Homo sapiens: one gene and its partner. The protein of the gene in region 2 interacts with the protein of the main gene of each other region in a pairwise test. Each region holds a gene or a part of one and is shown on either strand. Other genes may lie near its edges. The genes, in order: PLA2G4A and CAP1.

What was found.
Region 1: the proteins of CAP1 (region 2) and PLA2G4A interact in a two-hybrid assay, tested with the Homo sapiens proteins (one study listed by BioGRID and IntAct).

What each region holds. Positions count from the first base shown.
Region 1 is NC_000001.11:186,938,067-186,954,892, forward strand, and holds part of PLA2G4A (cytosolic phospholipase A2), read left to right. Parts: intron 1-941; coding exon 942-1,164; intron 1,165-1,913; coding exon 1,914-2,028; intron 2,029-8,570; coding exon 8,571-8,708; intron 8,709-8,802; coding exon 8,803-8,895; intron 8,896-12,590; coding exon 12,591-12,662; intron 12,663-16,826. UniProt on the Homo sapiens protein: Has primarily calcium-dependent phospholipase and lysophospholipase activities, with a major role in membrane lipid remodeling and biosynthesis of lipid mediators of the inflammatory response.
Region 2 is NC_000001.11:40,051,554-40,068,379, reverse strand, and holds part of CAP1 (adenylyl cyclase-associated protein 1), read right to left. Parts: intron 9,047-16,826; exon of another isoform or gene 9,044-9,046; 5' UTR 9,034-9,043; coding exon 8,922-9,033; intron 8,314-8,921; coding exon 8,210-8,313; intron 6,646-8,209; coding exon 6,568-6,645; intron 4,154-6,567; coding exon 4,010-4,153; intron 3,907-4,009; coding exon 3,821-3,906; intron 2,166-3,820; coding exon 2,060-2,165; intron 841-2,059; coding exon 663-840; intron 1-662. UniProt on the Homo sapiens protein: Directly regulates filament dynamics and has been implicated in a number of complex developmental and morphological processes, including mRNA localization and the establishment of cell polarity.

The DNA of each region.
Region 1 (16,826 bases), about 150 Mb from region 2:
TTTACATATTCTATTTTTATTTTGTTCTGTGAGTTTCCTAAGCTGTGCTTGTCATATGCCAGACATTAGCTAGTCACTGAGGCTAAAAAAGATGAATAAACAAAGTTTATTTCCTGAAGGAGGAGGACACAATTTCTTGAGGGAAACAGATAAGTAAACGAGTAATTAATAGTCAGCATGAGATCTACCATACTAGAGGTATTGGTTCACAGGTAGGAGCACCATAACTAAATTTTTATTATCTAGATATCAAATATCAAGGCTCATGGTGATTTCCAGTTTTACCAGAAGTGGCCAAATGGCTGGCAGACAAGAGGCTTCGTAAGAAAGCATTTACTTTAAAGACTTTATTTCTCTTTAGGATTTTGCCTTCAGATTCATATGTTCAGAAATTTAGAGACCTACAGTTGACAAGATTTGAGATTTTTGTCTAGTTGGCCAATGGATAATTAAGGAGAAAAAAGGATTTTTCAAGGGAATTAGGAATTTACAATAGTTGGGACAACATATTTTCTACCTGTAGATAATCATCCTGGAAATTTAGATGATCAGATTGCTTGACTAGTCTTGGAGCCAGACAAGTCAATTCATTTACATGACTCAGATGTGCTCTGTCATCAATCTCTAATACTCTGATAGAGATACTCCATTCCTGGCACACCAGACAATGGACACTAGTCCTAGTAGGGCACCTTCTCTCTTGGACTGTGGATGAAAGTTCAGTGTTTCCTCTGACACCTCTTTTTTTCTTTACCTTCATGGTAGACTAGCTCCTGTCTGATTGACACATTCTTTTCTTAAATGTTTTAATATCTGCAATCAGATAATGAAGTTAACCAAATATGTCCACCATGCTTTATTTACAGAGTGTGCCTTCTTTCTTTGGAGACTGTTGTGTAATGCTCTTTATCTTTACTGATTGTGTTTTGTTTTCTGTATAGGTATATGTCAACCTTGTATTCTCACCCTGATTTTCCAGAGAAAGGGCCAGAGGAGATTAATGAAGAACTAATGAAAAATGTTAGCCACAATCCCCTTTTACTTCTCACACCACAGAAAGTTAAAAGATATGTTGAGTCTTTATGGAAGAAGAAAAGCTCTGGACAACCTGTCACCTTTACTGATATCTTTGGGATGTTAATAGGAGAAACACTAATTCATAATGTAAGTTACAGTTCAATCTACACTGCTTTTATAACAAGTAGACAGAACATATTATAATATTATATTTTAAATAAAAGAAAATGTAATACATTTTATAAAAGTCAGTGGACTCTACTTATTTGTCCAACTATGCGTACTGAGCCCATTCTCCCCACCAGAGATTATAATTCTTCTACCTTTCAAACTAGTGCTTACTAATTCATTTCAATGATGTAAAGATTTTGAATGTGTGAGGAAGTGCTTTTGTATTCCTTTTCTCTGGAAAAAAAAAAAAAAAAAAAAATTCACATTTTAACCCTTAACTGCCCATTCCCTCCAAGAATGGTAACATTTTTAGATGAGGAAGAATGAAGTTTGCCTGAATAGAGTCAAGAAAGGAAGGGGATCGCATAGAACAGACTCGCTTGATGCATGATTGCATTGATGTTTCGTTGAAGATAAAGCAGAGGAGCGCCTGTGACAGGGAGTCCAGGGGCTAAGTTTCTTCCAGGCTCCACAGTTGCTAATTCATTCTCCAGTTCAGATGTAGACATATAATCTAGAGTTATGATTATTTTTTAAATGAAGATAGTTACTTCCATAGAGCTTATTTTTTGTTGTTCATTCAGGACCTAGTAATTTCTAGAAGTAATAAGACTTATTTTTATTATAAAGTTATAAGATTTTGATTGGAAGTACTATTTTGAATAGCATTCTTTCTGTGTCTGTTTATAAATTTAAAGTCATCTTTTTCTTTCTTCTGTGGACAGAGAATGAATACTACTCTGAGCAGTTTGAAGGAAAAAGTTAATACTGCACAATGCCCTTTACCTCTTTTCACCTGTCTTCATGTCAAACCTGACGTTTCAGAGCTGATGTTTGCAGGTATGCTGTTTCCTTTCTCAGAACACTTCCTGGAACCTCTGAATTGCAGTTTCCCATGGTTTTCCTTAGAGGAAGGTCATAAGCAATTTCAGTTGTTTATTTTAATGTATTTTCTGTAACATAAGACTTTGAAGATATAAGAAAATATTAAGTGAGATGATTTCCTGGTTGTAGAGAATATTCCATGAAACTAGTAACTAATGTATTTTCATTTACTATAGTAAAATAAAAATCATGGATACAATCAATCAATACAGTCAATTAATTATCCACTCCTCAGTAACTTTTGACAAAATAATATGCCTAGTGCTTTTAGGTAGTGCAAATTGTTTTACTTGTTGGTTATCTTTTCATTAATTGGGTAATATGATCTACAGTCCTCCCTTGGTACTCATGGGGGATTGGTTCCAGGCCCCCCTGTGGATACCAAATTCAGTGGCTGCTCAAGCCCCACATACAAAATGGCACAGTGTTTGCAGGTAACCTACACACATTCTTATGTATACTTTAAATCATCTCTAGGTTATTTACAATGCCTAATACAGTGTAAATGCTAGGTAAATAGTTGTTATATTGTTAGGGAATAATTACAAGGAACAAAAGTCTGTACATGTTTAGTACAGATCAAACAGTACATGTCAACAACGTTACATTTTCTGGAATTTTTAAAAAATATTTTTGATCTGCAGTTGATAGAATTTGCTGAACTCATGGGTATATAGAGCCAACTGTATGTTTGCCATTCAAAGTGCTGTTGTAATTTTTATAATTCAGCACCTAAAAAGTTCTAGTGTATATTTGTAGTGGTTGATGAACCAATGCCTCATTTTGTTAAAATCTCAGGAGTGAACACTTGTTTCTTCTCAAGCTTTGCTTCTTGGATACTATAAAAGTGCACAACACTACTCGGGAGGCTGGGGCAGGAGAATGGCATGAACTCGGGAGACAGAGGAGCTTCCAGTGAGCCGAGATCATGCCACTGCACTCCAGCCGGGGCCATAGAGCGAGACTCCGTCTCAAAAAAAAAAAAAAAAAAGGGCACAACAGCATACTTTTGGGGGGGCCTCTGTCAGTGTTAGTCTGCAGCACAATAGCATTTCTGACTGTAGCTGGTGGGCTTCATTCTATTTTTAGGAAAATTATCTCAGTGACTTCAGACACCCCATGAGCTTAAAAAACCATCATGAGTGGTGTGTAATTGGCACATATATATCCAGAATCCTTTTGTAATTTTCACTTTTCTCTCAACTGCCTCTCAGACAAAAATTTTGAATAGTTTACAAAAATTAGCACACATGGGATCCATTCATTCAAATGTTTATTAAAATATTGGCTAAAATGTTTGTCATGCTTATGGTTCAGAACGCACTTATCACATTTGCTATTTTATTCCATGTTTCCTACAACCGGGGAGTAGGTATTTTTAGCTCTGTTCAACAGAAGAAAAACGAAAACCTCATAAAGATTAAATAATTTGCACATTGCTGCTTAGAACGTAATTAGCAGTGCTGAAATTGGTTTCAAAAATCCTTTGTTCTTTTTATTTTACCATACTAACTTCTGATGTGTACATAGTGATTACCGTCTATATAGATTGCAGCAGTCTGCCGGGCGCTAAGGATGAATTCCTCTTTCCTCACCACAATATATTGTCCCTACCCTATAAGACCTTATAGTCTGTTTGGAAAATTTACAATAATTATTAAAGAAGTTAAGGCACAAGAGAGTACAGAACTGTTACTATACACTGTCATTTTGACCAAGTTATATAATCTACGTTAGACCCAGTTTTCTCATCTGTTAAGTGAAGATGAGACTTCTCACAATGTTTTGCCAAAAAATGAGACAAAGTATGTAAACAATGGCAGGCCCTAATAATAAGTTTCCAGTACATTTTAACAATTTAGAATGTTCTGTGAAAGCTGTATAAGAAAAGTCAGAGGTCTAGATCTTAAAGATTAATAGGATTTGAATATGAAAGGCACATTTAATTATTGGATTGTGGAAGGGGGCATGTAGCAGGGTCAGGGATAACTCAGGTGTGCTCAATGGCAACAAGGAACCACACATCTTGGGCTATAATGGGGTTCATAGTAGAGAGTTGAGACTTTATTACATAGAAAAGTAAGCGCCATAATGAAATTGCTTCCCCCCAGCCATAGCTATTATCTTGTGGAGCTTTGAAATTTTTGGAATTGTTTGATCTATAACACTTGCATGCTAGTCAGATTTTTGCATGGCCAAATAAATCATCCTTCACCCAGAAAGAATTACATGGTCAAAAGAACACTACATTCTAATTTAAAAGCCTTGTCTTACAATACTTCTAAGCTGAATACCTCAGGCTAGTCATGTAATCTCTGATTCTTATTTTCCTCCTTATTTTAAAAAATATATTAACCCTAAGATTTATCTTCCAGAGCTATTAAGGCAATAATATGAAATATGCATAAGATGAGACTGAAAACTATAAAGAGGCATACAAATATAAAAGTTTGTTTTTATTGTCATGATTGTTCTGGACTTTTCACGGTGGTTATATTTTATTCTGAATTTTTAGTCAATAGCCATTTTCCAAGAAAACTTAACTAAAATAATTAAAGAATAAATAATATTTGGGTGAGTGGATATTCTGGGTTCTTTTAGACTGAAAAAATGCTGTTTTATATTCAGTTAGTAGTCTTTGGACCTGGATGTGTCTTCTTTTGACATCTGCTTCACTGCAGTACTGCTACTGAGATGAGTGGTGCATCATTAACCTTCATTGTTAAGCTTCTGTCATAAGGCGGGTTGAGCTGTGTCTTCCAACAGATTTAGACAAAATCATTAAACATTAATTATATGAATCTTGTACCCAGATAAGACATCTTAAGGTACATGTCTTGAGTGTTCAAGTAGCTTTACTTGAGTTACTGGGAAAAAAAGAATAGAGACACGTCTGTAATTTATTCTTCCAATATATGCTTAGATTGAAAGTGGCTGTGTAGAAGAAAAAGTTGAGATAGTCTCTGAATTATATTTTTAAAAGTCAAATAATCAAATTAGCTTACAGAAGCTTTATTAACAATTTTACTTCAACAATACCGGATAATATTTTCCCTTCCTCTTGGAATAATTTTAAACACACCTTTCATTTAGAAATTTCTTGGAAATTTTCAACAAATAAACATTGGTGTTTAAACTGTTAGAAATTCCTGACTCCTCCACTACATCACATTGCTGAAAGGACTTAAAACGTTCATTTAAAAATTTCCACTGGTGAATAAACTGCATTTATGGATTACAACTTATGGTTATGAACTTAGCATCATGCTAAATTTTTTGACAGACACTTTAGAAGTACAAATATAGTATTTTTCCTCAAGAAAGTTATAATCCTATTGAAAGAGACAAAAATAAAGCATGGAAAAATTCCTATAATATACCTAGACCTGACATAAGTGTGTAGACCTGACATAAGGGTGAGATGTCATAGAGATTTAGTATAGTTGTAAGAAAGGGTGATGAAACTTGGATTTAAGTCGAATGTAGAAGGATCTATCAAGTACGGGTAAAAAGATACCTTTGTGTGGAAACAATATGAGAAAATGCTCAGAAGGGAAGCCAGAGTTATGTTTTGGGCATCACTATTAAAAAAAACAACTAGTCTAGGACTTATGCACACATTGGTGAAGAAAAGGTGTTGTATTTGGAGGCACCAATAGTCCCAAGTTATGGAATGATTTTAATTCCAGACAGAAATATTTTTATTTGATTTTGATGATAATGGAAATAGTTAATGCTTTTGTGCAGGGCAATAAAATTATTTATGTAGTGTTTTTGAAAAAGTCACTTTGGTGACCAATAAAAACAGAATGGAAAGGAATGAAACTGGAAGCAGAGATATCACTGTGCTTTTGTGATAAGGCCCTGGAACTAGGGACATACTGATAAGAAAAGAATAGATGGATATGAGAGGCCTAAAGGTTATCGGTGTGATGCAATGATGGATTTGATAGAGTGATAGCATGGTTTACTGAAATAGGTAAGCTGGCCCGGGAAGAAGGGTGATGAGTTCTTATCTAGGTAAGTATAGTGGGAGGAGATGACAGAATATCTGAGTGTAAGGGCCCCAAAGGAAGTTGAAAGTACATGGAAGCGCAGGAGAGAGGTTGGAGTCAAAAGGTAGAGTCACCAGCAGGAGAGAATTAGTTGAAAACTAACACCGTGAGTTCTTCAGTGAGGGGTGCAGAGCTCATTTTAGCTTTTGAGAATGCCTAAGTTACTATGTGCCCAGGCCATGGCGCTAATCAAGAAGAGATCGCTAGAAAAGCAGGAACCAGGAAGTTGTTATGCCTCAGTTCCCATGATAGGGTTGTGAAATTGAGAGATAGGAAATTACTTGTATGAATACAGGAATTTTCCTAACAGCCTCTGATTCATTGCTAGTTATGTCTCACAAATTCCACGTAAATCGTTGTAAATCACACCACTTTCTGATGAAGAATATATGTACCATTTGGCTTTGACATATAATGAATTACAATGTTATCAAAATTGTGATTTCATCACTTCCTTCATGAAAGGAAGGTGTTGTGACCTACCATTGAACAAACAATAAATATAGATCCACAATTCCTTTTCCAAACCTTTGGTGACATGTGTTTTAGAATTCAAAATGTTTGGATTTTGGAGATATAAAGATACTCATATTGTGTATTACCTAATACCCCATTGGGTTCTTATAATCAGTGATATTTCTCCAATAGGATATATAAATATCCACATTGAGTGGGATAAATGAATTATAAGAGCCCCCACTAACATTCAAGCCTGATTTCTCACTAAATGAATTCAGATTAGATTTTACAAACAAATGAGTAACAAAGAAGCTTATGAATTTTTGAATTGTTTGGATTTTGTATTGTTGGATAAGATATTACAGACATATTATAATTTCAGAAAGAGAAAAGCTAGAAAAAAAAATGAAGTGGGTTAGAGAATTATGAGTTGGGCAGGGGTGGATGATGTTGGGATTTTAAAATGGACCATCAGCAAAGACCCTAAAATAAAGATTAAGTAGGAGCAAGCATTATAACTGCAGAAGGGAATAGCAAGTGTAAGGTGCTGAAGTGGGAATGAACTTGACTTCTTTGAGGAACAGCAAGAAGATCTGTGCCGTGTGGCTGAAGTGAAGTGGGATACGCAAGACAAAATGTGATAGAACATTGTTAGGAGGGATGTGGTCACATCACACAGGGAGTGGGATCTAGGCCAGGACGGAAACTTGTCGGCCCTGTTTTTATTTTCAGTGTAATGGGAAGCTTTCAGATGACACTGGTGTGCTGTGATTTATATTTTTAAAGATTTATTCTGGCTATGGGATATCAAAAAGATAATAAGTGAACAGAGTAGAAGCATTTTAGGAGGTTATTGTGGAGGTCCAGGAGAGAGAATACAGCAATTTGTATCAGTACGATCACAGTGGACAAATGGATAAGTGACCAGGTTCTAAACATACCTCGTGATAGAGCCTACAGCACTTGATTTTTCCTGTGTAAGCTATAAGGGAAAAGAGAACCATCAAGGGTAATCCTGAAGTGAGTAGTGGCATGAATAATATAGTACCATTTACCAACAAGAAGAAGAATGAAGGAGTTGCAAATGTAGAAAATGGGAATCAGAAACCAGGAGTTCTTGCTGAAGACATCAAGATGCAGATGATAATTAGACATAGTCGTAGCCATGGGAATACATGAAACATAAAGTGGCTACTATTTATTGAGCAATTAAAATGTGCTATGTCCTCTTCTAAGCTCCTTACATTTCTTAACTCAGTGGATCTTCAAAACAATCCTACACACTATCTACTTGTGATATGTGATTTTATTCACATTTTATAGATTAGGGACCTAAGACAGAGAGAATAATACCCAAGTCAGTAAGCACAGCTCATAAGCAGCAAAATAGGATTTGATCCCAGACAGTCCAGCTCCAGAGCCCCCGCGCTTAGACAGTATACATCTCTGGCACTATTACCATGTTTTTCTAAGGCATTCAACCTAAAAACTTTGTATTGCAATCTTGTGGAGTTAGAATAGACAGTTAGTGAGCAAAATTGAAGTGAAGGTGAAGAAAAGATAAATGTTAGAAAACATTTTATTTCATTTTAATAAACTGTTTGAATTGCTTAGAAGAGTTTAATTTATTCTGTATGCTCCATGAAATTTATATCTAGTTAGCAGTTTTCAGTTTCCTGTTCTGTAGAATGAAAACTGGCTTCAAAAAGACATCTGAGTTTTTAAATAGAAAAGTGCATCTAATTTCTGCAAATTAGAAGGGATCTTTTTGTATCGTCTTGTCTTATTCACCTCTAAGCGTTTTTCCCCCAACTTCTACACAATGTCATATACATAATGGGCATTTGGCTAATGTTTTCATTTTGATATTTTAAATACATGAATGAGAATAAGCATAACATTATTAAAGTGATCATTAATTGTGCACACCATGCCATAGCATTTTCCTATTAATGGATTGCCTTGTTTTTAAAATACTTTCAGATTGGGTTGAATTTAGTCCATACGAAATTGGCATGGCTAAATATGGTACTTTTATGGCTCCCGACTTATTTGGAAGCAAATTTTTTATGGGAACAGTCGTTAAGAAGTATGAAGAAAACCCCTTGCATTTCTTAATGGGTAAGTGATCAAAATAAAAATATATCATTGACTTGCTTGACTATTTTGAAACCTGGGATATTTTAAGTTATTTTCTGTTTCTGTTTTATTTTAGGTGTCTGGGGCAGTGCCTTTTCCATATTGTTCAACAGAGTTTTGGGCGTTTCTGGTTCACAAAGCAGAGGCTCCACAATGGAGGAAGAATTAGGTATCCTAAAGATATGCTTACATTGATACAAATCTTGCTACATTGATAAAGTTTATTGACATATATAGAGAGAATATTAAATCTTTGTAAATATTTCAACTATTCTAAATTTATTAATAATTTGGTTGAATCAATCTAAATATTTCCTAAAAATAATATGTTACTTCTTAAGTATTATTTTGACACTGAGGTTATAAAACTCATAAAAATCATTGATTTCTAAGAGTAATTTTTAATAGAACACATCTCTATTCCTTTTTCGCATTATACTGCTAAACATACTATTTGTATTAGAAAGTCCTCTTTTTATCAAATAAGAATAGCTTTTTAAAGATTAGATTCACCAACAGCTAAATACAATGTAACACTGAAGCTTATGCTTGTCAGTTTATTTAACCCTTAAATATTAACTCACCAGAATTCTGTTAGCATCTTATATTAATCTATACCCAAAAGAAGGAAAAAAATCAAATCACCTCTAGTACACTTAAACTAATGATTTTCATTAAATCTAACCTATTGGCCTATAATAAATTACGAATATTTACAAAACCTGAGAAAGTAGACAATCTCAACTGGGGACCAGTGGTTTTCATTCATTATAGGAATACCATAGAAACATGTTTTCTTAAATTAATAAATTTGACTTAAAGCAAACAAAAAATTTATATTCAGTTTCTTCCAAAAGCCTTGCCACCTGTATTTTAATCAACATTAATTTTTGGGTTGACTGTTTTGACTGATAGCATAAAGAAATGGTGGCATGCTAAATCTGAATTTGGAGCCATAACAGCAGGGACCTGGGAGAAGTGCCTGATGGACTATCAACACAACTACCTACTATCTCTTCTCTATCTGGGAAGTAGCAAAGATCTATCTGAGAACAAAGAAGTCGACAGAATAACATTGATGACTTTTTAAATAATTAATTTATTTGAAGAATGCTTGCATACAAAAAGCTTCCTGCAGGAATTTTAAACAAGCTGTCCTTGGTTATCCCAGGCAATGTCAGTTGATTTAATTAAGTTTACATGCAAAAGAGAATACAATTGTAACATTAATTGGAACATTAAGTTGGCTTATAAGCAGTATTTCCACTGCTCCTACAATTGATTTTAGTTATTTGATAATTTATTTAATATTTGTATTTAGTGTGGTAAACTCCTGTAGTTCATAATATTTTCAAGAGTGTCATTTGTATTTTTGTTAGTTCTTAATGAATAATGGAAAAGTTATCTTATAATTTCATTGGAGCCAAAGATTTTAAAATAAAAATAAAAACAAACACACAAATAAGGCACCTTGTGTTTGTTTATTTTCTGTCCTCTGATCATCACCCAGTTAATGAGCAAACAAGGTAGGTGGCACCCATGAGCCTGCTGTGACATTTACCACGGGGCACATTCTCCTAAGAGTAACTGCAAGGCAATGTGTATAATGATAAAATGATCTTACTTGATTTCTTTTAATGAACATTATATCCCAGATGAATGTCCTGTTCCCAACTCTTTGTGGAAATAACAAACCCTTTCTCTAAGTTATGTGAAGATTTTAGAAAAAAAAAAAAAAGAAGAAGAAAGAGAAGATCACATATTGAGGCTTGCTTCCTGTGCCCCTCTGTTGAATAATCCAGATAACCCAGGGTTTGCTGTTTTTTCTTCTTAAGGCAGGAAGAGAATAGGACTGAAATAACAGATCTGAATGTGGGTGAGACAGTGGCTAAAAGCCAAGGAAAAGGAGGAGGTTTATACTAGGTAGTTTTGAGAAGGTTCTTTGTTGAGAAGTTTCTTTAGAGGCCGGCAGTCTGGCAGCTTATTGACTCGGACTGTGTGTCAGACTGAGGGGGAATATCGTGTATGTGTGATCCGCCAGTCAGCAGGAAGCATGTTACCTCAGATTAAGTAAGGATTTCCAGAAATGAAACCAGAGAGGTGACCAAGAGGACTCTGAGGACTCCTGGTGACTACTCTATCCTTTGGCTGACTGAAGTCTATCTCCTAAAGGAGTGTTCAGAGATGATTTTTACTTTTTTGTTTTCTTCCTTCTGAAGAAAGACTTTAAGGTAAATTGGGCTACAATCAGGTAACTCTGAATGAAACTACTTACTCTCTAAGGAGTTTTGAATGAATGTGAAAAATTTACACTTTTGAGAGATGGAGTTGTACATTATACTAGGATGGAAAATATGTAAATTCAGAATAGTTAGCTATTCATATCGTGAATTCTTCCTTACAAATAAGACAGTATTTTGGTGAACTATTTTCTTAAACTATCATATGTGACAGAAAGAAAGAAAGGAAAGAAAGAAAGAAGAAAGAAAGAAGAAAAAGAAGGAAAAAGAAAGAAAGAGAAAGAAGGAAGGAAGGAAGGAAAGAAGAAAGAAAGAGAAAGAAAGAAAGAGAAAGAAAGAAAAGAAAGAAAGAAAGAAAAAAGAAAAAGAAAGAAGAAAGAAAGAAAGGCAATAGAAAGAAAGAAAATACTTAAGGAAGGAAAAGAAAATAAATGTAGGACTAGAAACACACCTAATGTATATGGCACCTGGGATAGATCATTTCTTAACATCTCCCACACCTCTGTGTAACAAAATTACTATTGATGATAGCCATGAAATGAAACTAATAATATTAGCTTGTGAACATTTAATCAAATTTTTTATGTATAATCATGCCAGTAAAAACTTAAAAAATAAATGTCAATCCATTGCCTTAAGCATTTATTAACCCTTCCATTACTAACTCTTGCTCATTCACGCACATTTTACTTGAAAAAAGACAACTAGTCTGGGCACTGTGGCTCACACCAGTAATCCCAGTTCTTTGGGAGGCCAAGGAAGGATGATCACTTGAGTCCAGGAGTTTGAGACCAGCCTAGGCAATAGAGTGAGACTTCATTTCTACCAAAAAAAAAAAAAAAAAATTAAAAAAATTAGCCAAGCATGATGGTCCATGCCTATAATCCCAGCTACTCAGGAGGCTAAGGTGGAACGGTTGCTTGAGCCCAGAGGCAGAGGTTGAAATGAGCAGAGATCATGCCACTGCAGGCCAGCCTGGGTAACCATTTAAAAAACATAAAGAAGAAAGATAACTAGTTATTATGCTAGAATTTACTGCTGTCTTTGTTTTAAGGATTTCTGGTTGTTATTTTAGTTTTTATAACTGCTCTCTTAATATGTTCTGCAGGAAGCACAAATTCTTGACACCAAAAGGTGAATTTCAACTGACAATTTTCAATATTATTGAAAGTCAAAAGATAATTTATGTTAGTATCTTTCATTCATTTTAAGAAAACTGTTTGGTAGCTCACCTGTAGATTTTGGTTTTATCCTTTATCTTCATAAACACCACTTAAAAATATCTAATAAAGAAAAAGGCATATTTTTTGGTATAACAAGGAGCTTCCTATAATCAAGTTGTTATTTTTGTCAGAATTATGATAAACATAAAATTATCCTCTTTAAGTCATGAATTAATAAATATAAACTAATTTTTCATGTCCCAGGAAATTTTGTTTCCAGTGAGAAATCTGAGAACATGATTAAATCTAATAAATCTAGAATTATTAAATGGATTTAAATTTATACTAGTAGAGCTAGTAGATCTCACTCTGTGGTTTTGCTCAGATTACTTTTTTATATTAAAATTAATTGTTAATTTTGACACCTGAAATGCTTCAATTTTTTTGTTTTCTTTTCACAGAAAATATTACCACAAAGCATATTGTGAGTAATGATAGCTCGGACAGTGATGATGAATCACACGAACCCAAAGGTGAGTGAGCCGGAAACTTTTCTGGCCCAGATCCATGAGGAAAGGATATGAACACTCTGTCTGATTTTCTCACTCAAGATGCTGATGGTAATCTTCACTTCAGACACGGAAGTGATAAAATTGTAGCTTTCTGTTGAGAGAGAGGATTGCATGTTGCATGTCTAATAAAATAGGCAGCACATATAAATCCCTAATTTATTTTGTTTTAATACCTCAAAAATACTATAAGTTGAACAAATGAACAGATCCAAGATGGTAGAAATGCTGAATTCTATTTTAAGTCTGATTAGAGCACTAGGCTTCTCAGCATGGTTACTGTGATTTGGGAACATTTTTAGATGGCTTTAAAAATTAACATTTTGTCTTTCAGAATTTTGTTATTAAGTAACATGAAAAATTATATTCTCACTCCATTCCTGACCCTTATCCCACTGGCTACACCCTCCCTCTTGAGAAAGGATTAGTGATGAAGTGGGGTAAAAGTATCAAGAACTTGATACGTATATTATTTCATAGTATAAATGAGCCCTTTTACATTTTGACAAGGTAGTTTGCAGTTTGGTGTGGATTATGATAGTCAGTGATGGACTTGGGGCAGAGATAAGGTGAGGATCAGATTTGCAACAAATATGAAAGTCATATTTGTTGTAAATGTTTTGTGGTAAAATAGATTATTTTGACACAGTGTTTTGAGACAGCCATTTATAAAAATGTTCCCAATAGTTAAAAAAAAGCCAACAAACAAAAACAAAAACAACAACAACAAAAAACAAAACAAAGGGAAGGCTTTATAAGAACTGGATATATCTGTCCTATTACAGTTTGAATATGATCATCTAGATTTTAGAAGATATTAAATGCTTTCTGGTCCAAAACTTAATTAATTCCACTAGGCATGGAAGAGCCTGTTTTATCCTTGCTTAATTATTACTAAAATTAAAATTCTTTTTTCATAGCTGGGCTATTACTTCCTCAGAAGATGTGTTTGTGTAAATTAAAGAAAAGCTGCCTTCTCTGGAGAATGTAGCTGCACAGGGCCATGGCTTGGCTAGTGTATGTTGTCTTGCGAACATTAAAAAAGAGGATTCCTTCCCTGGGCAGCCAACGCTTTCATCTGGGCATGAGGCTTGGCTAGATGAGTGCAAGTTGGGTTCAGCCCTGATTTGCCCCCCTATCCTGCTGCGTTATGTAGCCCATGATCTGCCTAATCAAATAATGACCAGCAGCCCTGATCATTAAGCAGGAACCCCAAAAGAACCCTGTCCTGGAAGCAAGCAAGTCTTCATCCTGGCTCCTTCATTTTTAAAATTTAAAATTTATATATATTTTAGTTGTTTAAGTCCTTTTTGTTTTGAATTTCCTTTTAATGAAGGAAGCTAGCTATTGTAAAGGGGATAGCTATCACATGCCTAGCATCTTTAGAATTATTTGTGTATTGATTTAGGGACTACTGAGGAGACAGAATAATGGTTTCTCCATTATTAAGTATTTCTATAGATAGTCAGTACATTTGATAACCCCTACAGTACTAGCTGAGTCTTAAGGCTGAGAAGTTCAAGGACTGTTGAATATGGCTGCTTTGGTTTTAGGATCAGCCTTGCTTACAGCATGATATGTAGTATGTGGTTAAGGTTTTCTTTTCGGCTCTTAGTATTTATTTTTTCTCTTTTACATAGAGTTTTTAGAGCAGTTTTAGGCTCAAAGCAAAACTGAGCACAAAGTACAGAGTTCCCATATGTCCCCTGTCCACCTTCCACCACCCCTGCCTCTCCCACTATAAACATTCCACACCAGAGTGGTACATTTGTTACAAGTGATGAACTTAAATTGACATTATTATCAGTCAAAGTCCATAGTTTACAGTAGGACTCACTGTTAGTGTATATTCTATGGGTTTTGACAAATATGTAATGACATATATTCATCATTATACATGTCACACACACTAGTTTCACTGCTCTAAAAATCCTGTCTCCTGCCCCGTCCCCTCCTCCCCCAACCCCTAACAAGCACTAATCATTTTACTCTCTCCATAGTTTTGCCTTTTCCAGAATGTCATGTAGTCAGAATCAAACAATAATGTAGCCTTTTCAGATCTTTCACTTAGTAGTGTGCATTTAAAGTTCCTCTATGTTTTTTCTTGGCTTCATAGCTTATTTTTTTAGCACTGAATAATATTACATTGTCAGGTTGTGCCACAGTTTAGTTATTCATTCACCTGCTGAGGAAGGTGAACTTGGAAAACTTGAAGTTTGCTTCCAAGTTTTGGACATTATGAATAAAACTGCTAGAAAAATCTATGTACATGTTTTGGTGCAGACACAGATTTTTCAGTTTATTTGGGTAAATACCATGGAGCACAATTGCTGGATCATATGGTAAGAGTATATTTAGTTTTGTAAGAAACTGCCAAATGGTCTTCCAAAGTGGCTGTACCATTTTGCATTCCACTACCAGCCATGAATGAGAGTTCTTGTTGCTCCACATCTTTTAAACATTTGGTATTACCTGTGCTTTGGATATTGGTCATTCTAATAGGTATGTAGTAGTATCTTTTTATTGTTTTAATTTGCATTTCTCAAATGACATTTAACTTGAAGCATCTTCTCATATGCTTATCTGCTATCTGTATATCGTTTTGATGAGGTATCAGTTCAGGCCTTTGGCCCATTTTTGGATTGGGGTTATTTTCTTATTATTGAATTTAAAGTGTTCTTTGTATGTTTTATATTACATGTTTTAAATCAAATATGTCTGTTGCAAATAATTTCTTTCAATCTGTGGGTTATCCTTTTATTCTCTTGAGGCTCTTTCATGTTTAGTCATATGATTTTGAGCAAAGTTTTAGGCATTTTCAGCTTTAGTTTCTTCAGACCTATCCTGGAACCATTTACCTTCTCTCACAGAATTGTTGCAATCATTAATTTAGCAAATGCATACAAAAGGGCTCTAAGTTGTAAAGGGCGATGCAAATAGAAATGTACTATTACTGTTATGATTAATAAGCAATAAGTATCATTTATATGTTGACTGTTGGGTTTGTCCCACAAGTGATGCCATTATCAAAGGTATCCTGGTATGGAAGTGAGGGCTTATTGAATAAGAAGAAGAAAAGTAAGAAGCGACAGCCCCAAAATCTTTGGAAATAATTGCATATCCTATTTATATGCTGTGTAACTAGAGATAGAAATCGTTCACTTTAAAGCCTGAATTGTTCTAGTAAAAGACATATTTTGTCCTGTTTGGCATTAGAAAAGTGTAAGAGTAGAAAGTAGTGTATTTGTTTTTGGTGACTATATAGTCATCTGGACTGGTTACTGAATGAAAGATCTCTTCATTTACTCAGCTCAGTTAAACAAATACCTGTGAAGATAAGGATTATAAATCATGCTACTATAAAGACACATGCACATGTATGTTTATGGTGGCGCTATTCATAATAGCAAAGACTTGGAACCAACCCAAATGTCCATTGTGGTAGACAGGATTAAGAAAATGTGGCAAATATATACCATGGAATACTATATAGCCATAAAAAAGGATGGGTTCATGTCCTTTGCAGGAACATGCATGAAGCTGGAAACCATCATTCTCAGCAAACTATCACAAAGACAGAAAACCAAACACCACATATTCTCACTCATAGGTGGGAATTAAACAATAGAACACTTGGACACCGGGTGGGGAACATCACACACCAGGGCCTGTCAGGGTGTGGGGGGCTGGGGGAGGGATAGCATTAGGAGAAATACCTAATATAAATGATGAGTTGATGGGTGCAGCAAACCAACATGACACATGTATAGCTATGTATCAAACCTGCACATTGTGCACATGTACCCTATAATTTTAAGTGTAATAAAAATATATATTTATTATGGTTTTATGTATGTTTAGTTTACATTTATTGGAAATTATGAAGCTGACTATAGAATCTCTTTTTTCTCTTTATTTCAACACACACACACACAATCACGCACACATACACACACAGTTTTATAAATGTGTGACTATTTATATACAGGGTTCCTAGAAATCAGAAAAAAACGGGGTTTAGGCAGGTGAAGTTATACATTACCATAAATTATTCTTTGATTTTGATTATGAATAAATAAGATTGATGATTATGATGCTTCTGCTGCTGCTGCTACAACTGTTTCTGCT
Region 2 (16,826 bases):
AGAATTGCTTGAACCTGGGAGGTGGAGGTTGCGGTGAGCCGAGATCGCGCCATTGCACTCCAGGCTGGGAAACGAGCAAAACTCCGTCTCAAAAAAAATAAAAAAATAAAAAACATTTCATCAAGAGGACATGTGGTAGTTAGCCATTTCTCTTACAGTTGGATTTAGGTTGTTACACCATTTTTAGCTACTATGATCATAGATTCCTAGAAGTGGCTGGACAACTCAGACTTCCACCAGCTGTGTTAAGGGTATCTACTTTATACCAACATTAGGTCACTCTCATGCAAATTTTCCATGTAACCAGTATGCATCTTCTGAGGAAGTTAACTCCCTAACACAATGCCTTCCCAGAGGCCATGTGGTGCCACGGAAAAAGCTCTGGGGAAAACCGCCAGCTCTGTGCCTTGGCACAAGAGGGTCCTCTATATATGCTACCTAATATTAAGTCACTTTCCCATGGGGCAGATGGCTTCCTCCAACTGTGATCATCATTTTCAATTTCCATTTAAGCCAGCTTTGCCGTCCCTTAAAGGAACAGGACACACCAAACGAGTCTCCACCACACAAGCCAGGGTTGTAGTTTACAGACGGTTCTGGTTGGTGGGGTCTGGCCCACACAACTTGTTGTACCTACTGTTCGTGTCCAAGTGCTCACTCACCATGTGTAATGCTCTCCCCCTGATTAATCTGCGCGAACAGTGATGAGCGGGAAGCAGACTCATATGAGCATGAAATGGTAGAGACTGGGGGAGGAGGGGGGCATGGTGGAGGGGGAGGAGGACATGATCCGGCAGAGGGTCCAGATGGCAGTCCGCTCAGTTCTTTTGCCACAGGCCCCTGGAACAATAAGTGCAGGTAACATCATCATCCTCTCTGCTCCCCTCTGTACCATTCCCAGTAGTGCCCTACATGGGCCAGTGCACATGGGGTCCCCACCACAGCCTTTGAGGCAATGATTAATGTGTCCTACCCATACCCAACTTGGCTTTATGCCTTCTCACCCTTTCCCAAGGATCCAGCTCTCAGTTCTATTTCTTGACCATCACATTTTGCCTTTGAACTCACCTGATTCCAGCTCTAAAAACTATTTCCACAAATCTACTTGACATCTTCCTTAGTGTGTTACCAGTACCTCTGATTCAACAGATTCAAAACTGATTTCATCATTTCCTGCCGCTCCTCTCCCTGTACAATCATCCCCTTGTCCCTATTTCAGTGAAAGATGTTACTATCCAAGACTGACTATTCAATCTTCTTTGAGGATTCCAACTTCTTCGACCTTATCAAATCTCTATTATCTTGGTGCTATCTCCTGCAAATGTTTTTCTACTATCCCCCAAACACCATGACCACTTTCATAATCTGAGCATGAGTCCTTATCCCTAACCTATACACTGAGACTCTTTTAAAGACAAATTGAATCATTATCACTCCCTTGCTCAAATACCTCATCCCAAAGTCTCAGCCTACCTTCCTTTCCAGCCTTTTCTCCTAAAATTCTGATCATTTCCCCTTATTGAAGCCAGAGATGACCAATCTCTACATTTACTCTGCATGTATTTTGTTTAAGCTGTGCCTTTTGTAGTATCCCACTTCTCACTGCCCTATACTACTTTCAAGTCTCACAGAAGAGTATATACCTTCAAAGTACAATCTCTTCTAGTGAGAAGCACTCTTCTCTTCCTCATACTCTAGTCTGTATCTTTATTATAGCATTTGGCTTGGTGATTTGTATTGGGGTTTTGCATTCTTATTTTTAAGCTCCTTAAAGGCTGGGATAGTGTAACTCATTTGTGTGTGTCTCCTGCTCCAGCACCAATCACTGTCCCTAACATATTTATTGAAATTGAATACCACTGAATATTCCTTCTCCTCTGATCCTTGCTTCCTCTACTCTTTTTACCCTTTCTTTCTCCTCCTTTTCTTCCTCCCTTCCACTGAAAAAACTAGCATTCCCTCACAGACTTTGGTAGTGCTGAAGTCTAAGAAACCTGTGGACCCCATGCTGGAGAGAGAAAGTGGGAGGGAGGGAGGGAGGGAGGAAGGATTCACTAACCGTTTTGCTCCAGGCCAGTCCGGTGGTATGGAACTCCTTAATGTAAGCCTGCAGCTCTGTCCATATACTTAAATAAGCTTTGACCCAGTCTACATGCTTCTTATCCCTGGGAGGATTAAAGAAGAACTTGTCACAGGTGATCCGGGTACATAACAGTGGTGACTCCAGAACCCTTCTTTCCTATGGGCTCACATTCTCCTACCCGTGGTGTTTCTTAGGCTCCGCTCAATGGCAGCTTTTCTATCATCACCAGCTTCTATGTATATACAACCTAGTCTATTACCCTAATCAGACCAAACTCCACTAAGATAGAGACTCTGGATTCTATCTCTATCTCTCATAGCAATGTTTCTCAAACTGTTTTAAGTACCAAAACTTTTTTTTTTCTTTTGACCACTTGCTGCTTATTGAAACTTTTTTCAAAGTAGACCTTAAACACAATCTAATATGTAAAACTGATAAAAGCAGACATTCTGTGCATAAAACCATGGTAGAGAGGAGAGCTCTTAAGTATCACTGTGGAACTCTAAAGACTAAGAAACTTAACTGCCTTATGAGACAATGCCTTATGTCAAAATATGCCCACCCTGACCAAAAGCAAACTTAAAAACTTTCCCTTAGGGGGAAACAATCAGCCTTAAATTATAGAAATAGCATTGTGCCTACGGTTCAAGTCCCCTCTCTTCTTATGTATTAACTGGGAAGGTTATTTAGCCTAAGACCTAGTTTCCTCAACTGTAAAGTGATGGGATAATGGTGGGATATATCAAAACACTGTCATGCTTAATTCCATGTTGCTAGAAGGATAAGGAAGTGCCTGTTGTTCTGGGACACATTTCACTCACAGGAAGGTGTAGTTTTCCTTAAAAAGAGTAGTTAATAAATGTTTGTTGATTGATGAAGGATGGAAGAAAGGAAAGGCTTGTGTAGATATGCAACTTAATAAATTTTGCCTGCAATCATTCCAGCTCAAAACCAGCAATGGAGAAGTCAGAACTGGTAGACGTATGTGGTTAGACATGCAATGACTGCCCTACGTAATACCTGCATTGGCTAGGCAGCCTTACTCTCACTTTAACTGACTTCATGAAAAATTTCTATTAAGTCCTATTGAACCCTTTGCCATTGGGCCAGTAACAAATTCTCAACAAAGGAACAAAATCTTATATAAAGGGCATTAGTCCATGTTACTGCCAGCAAAACTTCCTAAACCCAGAAGGGTAAGGATCAGAAGACTAAAAGGGCCTCTACCAAAAAAGGAGAGAAAGCAGAAGTGGAAGCAGAAGTATTTCCTGCTTGCAAATGCAGCTGTGAGACAATATCTGTAAAGCTCTCCAGAAAGCAGCCCTGAGATAAAACCAGCACAGTGGCTAAGGGCAGCCCTCAGTAACTCCAAAGTGCTACTCCAGCAAGTAACCAAATGGGTTTATCCTTTACCCCTTGAGAAAAAGCTGAACTTGGCTGGGCACAGTGGCTCACACCTGTAATCCCAGCACTTTGGGGAGACCAAGGCAGGAGAATCATTAGAGACCAGCCTGGGAAACAGTGAGACCTCATCTCTACGAAAAAATTAGAAAATTAGCCAGGCATGGTGGAGCGTGCCTGAAGTCCCAGCTACTTGGAGGACTGAGGTGGGAGGATTGTTTGAGCTGGGAGGTTGAGGCTGCAATGAGCTGTGATTGTGCCACTGTACTTCAGCCTGGGTGACAACGCAAGACACTGTCTCAGAAAAGAAAAAAAGAGAGAAAAGGCTGAACTTACACATCTTTGTACTCTTTGAGGACTCGGTTTGTATAAAACATGGCGGCATCATTCATTTCTTTCACATAAGGGCCAGGCTTGGGAGCCTAGAGAGAGACAAGCTGTCAGTGACTCAGGACCTCTCCAACTATATTGCCTTCCCTCTTAAAATCTATACCCACCCCCAGCCCTGGAATCTGCGCTGCTCACCATAGCCACCCAGCCCAGGGCCTGGATACTTTCGCTGACAGCTGACAGGTGATTAAACAACTTGCTGCCTCGGTTCTTCTCCCGAAAGGTTATCACTTCTTTGATCTGCTCTGAGATGGGTGCCAACAAATCGGAAAGCTTATTCTAGGAAAAGATACAAGAAAAGATTCAGGTTAACATCTTTCCACAAAGGTGTCTATGCCTTCTGATCCTGAAGGCAAGAATTCTCTATGGACTCTAGTGAGCACCCAAATAAACTGCATGAGTCCTGTCCTGATTCCTAAGGCTAAAATACTGCTCATCATCTCACTCTCCTCGTAGAGTTCCAACTCCTCAGGCTGCACCTGATGGTTCTTCATGATCAGGACCCATACTTCAGCTATACCACAGAACCTCCATTTCAGCCACCTGTCTCTTTTTTGTTCCACTCAGAGGACATACACTCAGGACATCATTCCTGTGCCTTACTCATGATGTTCTCTTTTTTTCCCATGAATCCAAATTTTCCTCATGCTTCATGAGGGCCCTCCAACCCAGCCACACCAGCCTCCTACAGCATTTGTTGTCAGCATAACCAATCTTGGCATTTTATCACTCACCAATACAAACTATTAATGGACCCATGTGAATATGTTTTACTTTCTCATTAATTCTTCAAAGACGAGCTCTTTTATCATCATGAAAGCCCCCAATGCATTGCCAGCCATATAGTAGCTGCTGTAAAGAACTGATGAATCAAATGCAATTAGGGGGCTTAGTCTGGGCATGGTGACCCACGCCTGTAATCCCAGCACTTTGGGAGGCCAAGGCAGGAGAACTGCTTGAGACCAGGAGTTCAAGACAGACTGAACAACACAGCACAACTTTGTCTCTACAAATAATAAAAAGAATTAGGGCCAGGCATGGTGGCTCACGCCTGTAATCCCAGCACTTTGGGAGGCCAAGGTGGGCAGATCGCTTGAGTCCAGGAGTTTAAGATCAGCCTGGGCAACATGGGGAAACCCCATCTCTATAAAAATACAAAAATCAGCTGGGCATGGTGGCGCATGCCTGTAGTCCCAGCTATTCAGGAGGCTGAGGTGGGAGAATCACTTGAGCCTGGGAGGTGGAGGTTTCAGTGAGCCGAGATCCTGCCACTGCACTCCAGCCTGGGCGACAGAGAGAAACTCCATCTCAGAAATAAATAAATAAATAAGTAAGTAAATAAGCAAGCCAGGCATGGTGGTGCACACTGTAGTCAAGGCTACTCAGGAGGCTGAGGTGGGAGGATCATTACACCTGGGAGGTCAAGGCTTCAGTGAGCTGTGATTGCACCACTACCCTCCAGTCTGGGTGACAAAACAACACCCTGTCTCAAAAAAAAAATTTTTTTTTAAACATAAATAAAATAAAAAACAATTAGGGGCTTAGCATTCAAGTAGGCACCTTGGCAAAATGGATGAATTTTGTTTGTGTTTGCACCCTTCCTCCAAAGCTCCATTTCCTGAACATCTCAATTCTCAGATCTTAACCATTCAGGACAGATTAAGAATTAAAATCTAATTCTACATATTAGAATTAGATGGCATCTATACACACACACACACACACACACACAATGTTTTTTGAGAGAAGGTCTTGCTCTGTCGCCCAGGCTGGAGTGCAGTGGTGTGTTCATGGCTCACTGCATCCTCAAACTTTCAGGCCCAAATCTTCCTCCCATTTCAGCCTCTCAAGTAGCTGGGACTATACGCATGCACCACCTTGCCTGGCTATTTTTATTTATTTTATTTTTTTAATTTTTAATAGAGACGAGGTCTTGCTATGTTGCCCAGGCTGGTCTCAAACTCCTGGCCTCAAGTGATCCTCCTGCCTCAGCCTCCCAAAGTGCTGGGATTACAGGAATGAGCCAGCACACTTAACCAGAATCTAATATATTTGACATTATCTTGCACTATTTTTATATTATCTAGGCATGCTGAGGGTCAAGGGTTTTAATACAGCATTTAGGACAACTTGCTTTATTATTCCTCTGTAACTAGGAAAACCAAATGCAAAAGAAGGAAACCTATATTCTTTGACTCCAAGAGAAATCTAAATTTTCTCTAATTCAACTTTTCACATCTTGCACCATAAAATTTTGAGGTGGGAGTAAAATTAAAGAGAGAGTCTCCCAACCAGTGAAGGATGAGGAGAGAAGCAATACTGTAGGAGTTTTAAGATCTCCACAGGAGCACTACTAAAGCCCATCCACAGTGAAGCAAGAGAATCATCTTTAAAGGGCTTTGGAGACACTATGATGAATGTGGACTCAGCAAAGAGGCAGGCAAGCAAAGTCCCAGGGATAACCACAGTCCTATGCAAAATGACAGAGAAAAAGCCAGTAGAGACCATTAAGTACCCAATAGTACCTTCCCATTAAGGCACTTGAAGTATGGCTCTACCTCTGGGACTTGGTATGAACATATATTATCAAAAGCCTAGTAGGTCTATTTTAAAATGTTATAATAGCTTGACATAAATCTCTCAACTCGTCCTGAGCATCAAACCAAAATGAAACCAGCTAGTAGTGAACTTACTTCTGCTGGCTGTTGACACTGAGAAGCTGTAACCAACAGAGCTCGCTCCAACTTCAAACCTGTGTGGACCATCTCCGCCTGCCAGAAAGAAGAATCAGCTATTGATGACACATTATAACTAGAGAAGTCTTGATAAGAATAACCTGAAACCTCTACTTCCATGTACTCTGATAGCAACCCAGGCACTTCATGTTATCCTCCTCATGTATTCCAGATTCCAGGGACTGAGAGCAGAATTACATACACTACTGTTCCTATTGGAACTCATCAGGGATATATATCCAGAGTTGGAAGTGAAGTTAATTGGATAATCACCTAGCTTACATGAAGTCATGTTAGCATCTTACACATGCATTGTGATACCGTGCACTGAAAAATCCTTCCTATTTCACATCAGCAAAATAAAACAAACAGCAACCAAAAAAACACCTTTCTTTTCTCAAAAATTGGAGACAGGAGTAAAGGCAAAGGCCTAAATTTCTGCTGAAAATTCTCAAGGTATTTACTCCTTTAGATTAAAGCTATCTCTCAAATGCCAGATACCATGACCCATTAATAAATAATTAAATCAATTTAGTGAGCTTAATGGAACAAAAGTATGAGTGCAGTGCACCAACTTCAAGTTATTTCCAAATAAAAAGTTAAAAAAAAAAAAAGTACAGCAGAAGTAGTATAAATATCATCTTGTGAAACTTTTATCTCAGTTACGAATATGTTCTTTCTTTCTAAGGGTCATTCGCAGTCAAAAGAATTTAAGAAACATGAGACTGTAAGCACTATTAAAATACAAAAATTCAAAGAAAGCAATCTATTTTTTCTGGATTTGCATTTTTAAAATACAAATGATAAATGTTTTAAAGTTTTTTCAAATGTTACAGAACTGTATTAAGTAAAAATGCAAGCCTCCACACCCTTATTAAAGTCCCAGTCCCACTCTCTAGAGCTAAAACCATTGGCAACAGATGGTATTTGAGAGGCTCAAAATAGATTTTCCAAAAGCCAAGCAACCAGTCTTCGAGAAAGGTTTAGGTGAAGAAGTTCCCAAGCATGGTTACTGTTTATAATTCGGTGAGCTAGCAGGAAGGTTTTTGGGTCCCAAAAATAGAGGTAGAATGTATATGTGAGTGTGGGGTGGGGGTGGGGGGTGGTGGTGATGACGTAGGAGGCATAAAGGAAGGTGGGAGGAAAGGCACCTGTCATTGCCTACTTCATATTCTTGCTGTGGGTTAAGTGTGAAAATAACCCACATTAGCATAACTAATAACTATCAAGCATAGTTTTATAAATGCTAAGTCATGATAATGACTCCTTTAAATAAGCCACTGTAGGTTTGATTATGTAATATGTTGGGATCAAACTGGTGCATATTCTTCACTACAAAGATGAACAGAACCATATTTTATGTACCAAGCAAGCTTTCTGTATAAATACGTGATAAAAGCAAGGGGCCTAGAAAAAAATGAGGAATCGTTTCTGTGGCTAGACTGAACTCCTCAGTACAGGCAAAAGAGAAAGAACATGTGTAATGCCCCAAACCAAGAGGAACTTCTCAAGGAGCTCTTAAACCAAGGATGAGGACCTTGGCTGACTGAAGAAAGCTGTTAGTCCTTAAAAGAAGGGGAAAAAGGCAAAACATCCTTACATGTTTCTGCACGTCTCCCCCAATCTCTTTACTGATCTTCAAGTACTCTGCCACAGGACCAGCAAGCAGCGAGTCAAATGCCTGCACATATGGAGCTGCTCCTGCTAAAGACAAACACACCACAAAGAATCAGCCATGCATCAGAAGGAGGCTTCTTTAAAACGTGCTTCTACATGAAAGTGGGGAGGCAAGGTAATACAGTCAACAGGATACAGAACAGGAGTAAGGAAACCTGGGTTCCAGGTCCAGTATCACCACTAACTGGTTGTGTGACCCTGACTAAATTCCTTTTCCTCTCTGAGCTTAATTTTCTTTATCTATAAAATGAAAATAAACAAAATGATCCTCCAAGGTTTTTTTTAGTGCTAACATTCTATGTTCCAACTGGTGCATGTGCAAAATGTCCAATTTGCCAATTGTTTGGAGAGAGGAATTTTATTATCACTTGTCATTTGACTTACATTGGAGTCATTCTGCTAAAGAAAGAGCAGGAAATATTGCACAAGCAGGAAGTTCTTGTGTTAAAATAACTTAACCACAGGCCTCCCTGTACAAGTCATTTCCTCTCTTATCTGTTCACAGCAATACAAATTACAAAAGGTAAACTTTCTAGATTAAGTTTTGGGAAGTTAGCGCCAAAGGAGAGAATAATAGAAAATTTTCAGGCCAAGACGCTCAAAGAAAGCATTCTGCTGGGCTGTGGACTGCTTACCTTTTGAAGGACTGTCTGCATACCCACGGTGCATGTCAGAGGTATGAGATACTGCCTCCAGGCGGCCCACTGCCCTCTCCAATCTTTCTACCAGATTTTGCATGTCAGCCATAATGGACCACCTGCTGAAACAGATCAAATGTCATTTGTTATTTAAATATTAAATAGCACCTACAGAGAAAAAAACAGAAAATTCCTGGTCATCCCCAGGTGGATGAAGAGGATGCCAATTCTCAGGAACAGAATAATTTAATAAAATTAGATATCATCTGCAAAATGGAACAATACAAAAATATCAGATAAAAAAGTAGCATATTTACAAAATCAAAAGACCTCATTAAGCAAGAGAACTGCTCAGGAAAAGGTGTTCACTAAAGTAAATGCTTACTCATTCAAATACTCAATATTTACTATGATACTGTGTGTAGAAAGTTAGAATTTGCAAAGGATAGTCACATACATTATCTCAGTTTGAGCCTCCCGACAACTATTCAGGAATAGAAGGATGATTACTACACGCTTAGAGATAGAAAACTTAGTTTCAGTGAAGCTAAATGACTTGTCTAGTCACACGGCCAGTGAATAGAGAAGCCAGTACTCCATCATATCCTTATCTGATCCTTCTGGTTCTAAGTTCAGTGTGTTTTTTTCCTACAACATCCTGCTGCCTGCATGTGAAATATCCCAAACCAAGATGAATAGGATGTTTACTCTTCCCTCAATAATTTTTTTTTTTTCAGACAAAGTCTTACAATGTCACCCAGGCTGGAGTGCAGTGGCAGGATCTCAGCTCACTGCAAGCTCCACCCTGTTGGGTTCAAGGGATTCTCCTGCCTCCCAAGTAGCTAGGGTTATAGGTGTGCGCCACCATGCCCAGCTAATTTTTTGTAGTTTTAGTAGCGACAGGGTTTCACTGTGTTGGCTAGGATGGTCTTGAACTCTTGACCTCAAGTAATCCACCCGCCTTGGCCTCCCAAAGTGCTAGGATTACAGGCGTGAGCCACTGTGCCCGGCCTGCCCTCAGTAATTTATAGTCTAATGGGGAGACTTAACATATGCACTAACAACTATGAAACAAATAGAAAAAAATGTTAAGGTGACATAAGAAAGTTGCTGATAGAGAGGCATGAGATTTCAAAGAGGGGAGTAATATATCAGCTGGAAGGATCAGATAAGGATATGATGGAGAAGCTGCCATTTGAGCCAGCCTTCAAATGAAGATGAGAAAGATCTGGACATGCAGTAGGGAAGGACACTAGACACATCCAAAAGAATTTGTTATAGATCTTTCACAAGTACTATCTTATCTGAAATAGCCTAATTCAATGTCTAATATCCCAAAGAAAGTAAGCTCCAACAGAGAAAGGACCTTATATAGCTTGTTCCTTACTGTATACTCTACCATCTAGACTACTACCTGGCAGGTAGTAGATGTTCAATAAATATTTATGAAGTTATAAACCTCACAAATAGCATTCCAAAACTCCAGAGGGATAAGGGTGCTAAAAGTTGCCCATAAGTCACACATAAGTGTAAAATATGATCAATGCACCTCTACATAAAGTATTTGAGACCCTAAGTGATCTCATAAAAACCAGTCAGTGAAATTTCAATCCAAGCTTTGACTTGGAAAGATTCCATTTCACAAAAGCGTCAATTCAGGCAACTGAATTCAGTTCAGGTAACTGAAGCTGAATGAACTCAACTCCCTTGAAGCTGCCTAAAATGACAACAGCAATTATGATTCCCCCAAAGATGACAGCATGCCAGAATTATCTCAATTTAACACATTGTCCTCCCTGTGGAAGAGATAAGCAGCTCACAAGATAAAGTAAGGAAGACAATATAGTCTCTGTCCATTCTCTGTGTACAGGCTCTGGTCTCTGTGGGCCCAATCACTTGTCAGAGAGTGTTGTTTAAAAGAGAAGCAAAGAAAAAAAATGAGAATGAGAACCAAACAAACCTTTCCATTCCTTGGCCTGCAGCAGCAGCAGAAGCCTCCAGGTCTATGTCCTACTCTCAAATAGAGCAGACCATAAGCAGTCAACATACTTTCCCTAATGTTATGACACTATCAACTGATATCTGAATTCCTGCCCTGTTCCATTATGCATACTGATCAAGAGACAGACTCACATATATATACAATCCACCACACTGTAAGTCCAGGGGAAAAGGCAAGGAACGCAATAAACTCCTAAGCTACCTTCCATGAACAGATACCACTCAGTTCTGTTATTAAAACATGTTCCTTCATACATGGATGTTTCAGGTTGAGACCACTGTTAACATGGAGACACAGTACATGTATTGCTAGAGGCTGCCAGAGTTTGTGAACATTTACCAATCTTAAATGCTTAATAATAGAGCTTCATGGGACTTTGGCTCCCTTTTTCCATATTTCATTTGTATTTATAGGCTTTCACTGCTAAACAAGCTAAAGTTCCGCTGTCTGACTTAAGCAGAATGAAAAAGGACAATACAGCTACCATTTATAGCTAATCTCATTCTACCATTAACCAAATACAAAAGAACAGAAACTGTTTTTTTTGCTCTTGGTGGGAGTAAGATGAGATTTGAGATGTTATGGAAAATAATGTCCAGAATTTAAGTATGACATTGTATGTGTGTGTAGAGAATGAGATTCAGTTGTGTGAAAGACACACCTTTTCTTATTCTCTATACACACGTACATTCTTCCGGTGGTCATGTACACTCCTAAAGCCTCTGACTACCCTTGTTGTAGTAACACCCAGCCTATTTGCGAGGTGGTACCACCATAACCACCTATAGACTAAAGACTACCAGAGCAGCATATCCATCTAGCTCAGGCCATTCATCTGGGATTAAATTTTAGATTCAGGCCAAGTACTGTGGCTCACAACTACAATCCCAGCACTCTGGAATGCCAAGATGGGAGGAAGTGTTTGAGCTCAGGAGTCCACGACCAGCCTGGACAACATGGCAAAATTCCATCTCTACAGAAAATAAAAAAATTAGCCGGGCATGATGGTACACACCTGTAGTCCCAGCTACCCAGGAGGCTGAGGTGTGAGGATTACCTGAGCCCAGGAGGTCGAGGATGCAATGAGTAGTGATTGTACCATGCACTCCAGCCTGGGTGACAGAGTGAGACCCTGTCTCCAAAAAAAAAAAAATCCAGCTTTCACCTAGACATCGCTACCTGGATGTCCCAAAGGCAACCTGAAATGTCCAAAAGCAGAAATCATATTCCCTAACATTGCTCCAGCACTGCTATCAATCACCTGATTGATCAAGTCAGTAACTGGAAACTGTTGGGCAGTATTATATAGTGGATAAGAGTGTTCTTTAGAGAAATCAGAGAGATTGGAGGTTTGAATAACAATATGCAGTGGCTTTGTGACTATAAGCAGTTATCAAACTTTCTGAGACTCAATTTCCTTATCTTTATAATGAAGACAATAATAGCACAAAAATCCAAAGGGCTTCAGTGAGAATAAATGAAGGAATCCATGTAGAAGTGCTTGGCACAGTCCTGGAAAATAGTAAGGATTCCATAAACTCCCCCACAACATCTTATCAGTCATCAAAATCCATAGGCTCTATTTAGTGTATCTCATGAATAGATGCCTCTTGCCTCCATCCTGACTGATAAGAGTTAGGATACTGGCTGGGCACAGTGGCTCACTCCTCTAATCCCAGCACTTTGGGAGGCCAAGACAGGAGGGTTGCTTGAGGTCAGGAGTTCAAGACTAGCCGGGGCAACATAGGGAGACCTTGTCTCTACAAAAATAATTTAAAATTTTTCCAAGCATGGTGGTGTACAGCTGTGGTCCCAGCTACCTGGGAGACTGAGGTGGGAGGATGGCTTAGGCCCAGAAGGTAGAGGCTTCAGTAAGCCATGAGTACCACTGCACTCCAGCCTGGGCAACAAAGCAAGATCCTGTCTCAAAAAAAAAGGATATCAAGACTTCACCAAGATTACTGCAATGACTTCTTGGCTAGTCTCCCCTAGTTACAGTAATAAACTTTGTTCATCCATTCTCCATATTATAGTCAGAGTGATCTATCTCAACACTTCCCAGAGTACTGAATGGTATTAAAGAAATATTTATAATTATATTTGCATTTAAGATATGATATTAGAGTTGCATTTGACACATACCCCAGAGCGTTCAGGGTAAAGTCCAAACAAGGGTTTCTCTCATCTAGTCCTGCTTAATCTTCTACCACTCCTGTTTTATCTCTTGCTACACCTTTCCTTAGCACACTACAGCAACCCGGGACTACTTGCGTTTTCCAGAAAAAGCCATGCTTTCTCTCACTTCTGAGCCTTTATAATGCTATCCACTCTGCTTAGATGTTTTCCCTTTCCCATCTGCCCCTCTAGAACTCCTATTGTCATTTAAGTCTCAGCTAAGTTATCACCTCCTGGGGAAGTATTTCTAGTATGTGCTACCACAACACTGTGCACTTATCTGTGTCACAACACTGCACACACTGGTTTAAAATCATTTATTTGGCCGGGCATGGTGGCTCACGCCTGTAATCCCAGCACTTTGGGAGGGCAACACAGGCAATCACTTGAGGCCAGGAGTTTGAGATCAGCCTGGCCAACATGGCAAAACCCCGTCTCTACTAAATCCCATCTCTACTAAACATACAAAAATTACCTGGGCATGGTGGCGCATGCTATGATCTCAGCTACTACAGTGGCTGAAGCACAAGAATGGCTTGAACCTGGGAAGTGGAGGTTGCAGTGAGCCGAGATAGTACCACTGCACTCCAGCCTGGGTGACAGAGCAAGATTCTGTCTCAAGACATTAGTAATAAAAAAATAAAATAATTTATTTAATAGCCTTCAGAGTCTAAGAGTTTATGGCCATAATCCCCTGAATGCATCTGATCTCCTCTAACAGTCAACAGGCAACTAGCCACCCTAAGGCAAGGACCATGTCTTGCCACTGTAATTCCACTACTATAAACATAGGAGGCATTAAAAACACTGTACATTGGCTCACGCCTGTAATCCTAGCACTTTGGGAGGCCGAGACGGGTGGATTGCCTGAGCTCAGGAGTTCGAGACCAGCTGGGAAGCACAGTGAAACCTCGTCTCTACTTAGCCAGGCGTGGTGGTATGCGCCTGTAGTCCCAGCTACTTGGGAGGCTGAGGCATGAGAATTGCTTGAACCTGAGAGGTGGAGGTTGCAGTAAGCTGAGATTGCGCCACTGCACTCCAGCTTGGACAACAGAGTGAGATTATGTTTCCAAAAAAAAAAAAAAGAACAGTGGGCTAATAAAGGTGTTTGAGTAAGAAAATAAATAAATAAAGGCTCTTACTCACTCTCCCCTCAACACAGTGTGGCTATCTTCTCTATCGAATCCATGGAGAAGTGTTTTGTTTTGTTTTGTTTTAATTTTTTGCTTATCTGCTTTTGCAGGACCTTACAAACCCTCCTGTCTTTCAAATAAATGTTGCCTTCTCAGCCACGAATCACACTGATATAGAGATCTTCAAACTAAGTACCATAAGGAAAGTACTCTTCTTAGAATATATAATATCAATTAAATATAGTAATTCTGTATAGTTGTAAATGCTTAACATTATTAATCTGTTGATTCTTTTGAGACTTAAAATAATTCTGCAAGGTATGTTACGCAGACATTGATCCCTATTTTTAGAATGAAGAAACTGAACTGACATTCACAGCAGTTAAAAGCTTGCCAGATGGCCAGGCACGGTGGCTCATGCCTGTAATCACAGCACTTTGGGAGGCTGAGGTGAGTGGGTCACCTGAGGTCGGGAGTTCGAGACCAGCCTGACCAACATGGAGAAACCCCGTCTTTACTAAAAATACAAAATTAGCCTGGAGTAGCGGTGCATGCCTGTAATCCCAGCTACTTGGGAAGCTAAGGCAGAATTGCTGGAACCTGGGAGGCGGAGATTGCAGTGAGCCGAGTTCACGCCATTACACTCCAGCCTGGGCAACAAGAGCAAAACTCCATCTCAAAAAAAAAAACTTGCCAGAGGTCAAACAACTAGTGAGTAAAGAACCTAGGCCTAGAGTACAAATATTCTGAATCCTACTCTGCAGCTCTTCTTGCTACTCCACAATGGCTTTTAACAAATTAAGTGACTATATGGTTAATCACAGTATCCAGCCCCAACTTGTTTGCACAGCACTATGGGCTCAAGGTCTCTTTATGGTGTCTTTAGTTACATTATTATCATCTTCCATTTTTCTTTTTTTTGAGATGGAGTCTCCCTCTGTCACCCAGGCTGGCTGTACAGTGGCACGATCTCAGATCACTGCAACCTCCACCTCCCGGGTTCAAGCAATTCTCCTGCCTCAGCTTCCCGAGTAGCTGGGACTACAGGCACCTGCCACCACGCCCGGCTAATTTTTTGTATTTTTAGTAGAGACGGGGTTTCACCATGTTAGCCAGGATGGTCTCGATCTCCTGACCTGGTGATCCGCCCGCCTTGGCCTCCCAAAGTGCTGGGATTACAGGCGTGAGCCACCATGCCTGGCCAATTTTTTGTATTTTTATTAGAGACGGGGTTTCACCGTGTTAGCCAGGATGGTCTCAATCTCCTGACCTGGTGATCCACCTGCCTCGGCCTCCCAAAGTGCTGGGATTACAGGCGTGAGCCACCGCGCCTGGCCAGCATCTTCCATTTTTCTGCTTTCAATTTTCTCCATGGAGGCCAACTTTTTTTCAATCACATTCAGGATAGATGAGACATATTTGGAAAGCAAATGTTTAAAATAAGGCTTCTCAGGCCAGGCATGATAGCTCACACCTATAATCCCAGCACTTTGGGAGGCCAAGGCAGGAGGATGGCTTAAGGCCAGAAGTTCAAGACCAGCCTGGGCAACATAGCAAAATCTCATCTCTTTTATTTAAATAAATAAATAAATAAGGCTTCTCCCAAACACAGAAGTATCAGAGCAGAGAACTGTATGTCTGCCTAATCTTGCTCCTTGCCATTTCTAATTGTCAATAACCAAGAACTATACGTAAACCTCCATAAATGAATGTCCGGATTCCCAACTACTTAAGCATTCATCATAAAAGCTTCAGAAACACAGGTGGTCAAAATTACACAAGTCCAAATAAAATTAGAAGACTGAGGCCTGAGTCCCAAGCTGTACATACTAACTGTGCAACTTTACACAGTCACATAATGGATTATAATCCTCATCTAGCATACACAGATATAAGGATCAAAGGAGGTGATTTCATAGATACGAGTAATCACTTCAGAAGCCTTAAAATGCAATTCAAATGTAAAATGTTAGCACTACATATTACGTACTAGAATATAGGCTCAAGAAGGATGGGAATTTATCCATTCTACCTCCTGCACTGACTCTATCTCCCAGCACCTAGAAAAACTAGGCACACAGAAGATGCTAATAAAATCAAAGTGCTTAGCATTGTGGGCCTACTGAAGAAATAGAAGACACATGGTCCCTCCCCTCCAGAAGCACTCATATTGGTTAAGACAACAAAATAAAATGTGAATGGAATAAATACTGTAGATTATATTTGTTAAAGTTTTTCTGCTTTTATTTAAAAAACAAAACAAAACAAAAAAAAACAGGCTGGGCGCGGTGGCTCACGCCTGTAATCCCAGCACTTTGGGAGGCCGAGGCAGGCGGATCACAAGGTCAGGAGATCGAGACCATCCTAGCTAACACTGTGAAACCCCGTCTCTAATAAAAAAAATTAGCCAGGCACGGTGGCAGGGGCCTATAGTCCCAGCTACTCAGGAGGCTGAGGCAGGAGAATGGCATGAACCCGGGAGGCGGAGCTTGCGGTGAGCCAAGATCGCGCCACTGCACTCCAGCCTGGGCGACAGAGTGAGACTCCATCTCAAAAAACAAAAAAACAAAACAAAAAAACCCCAAACAAACA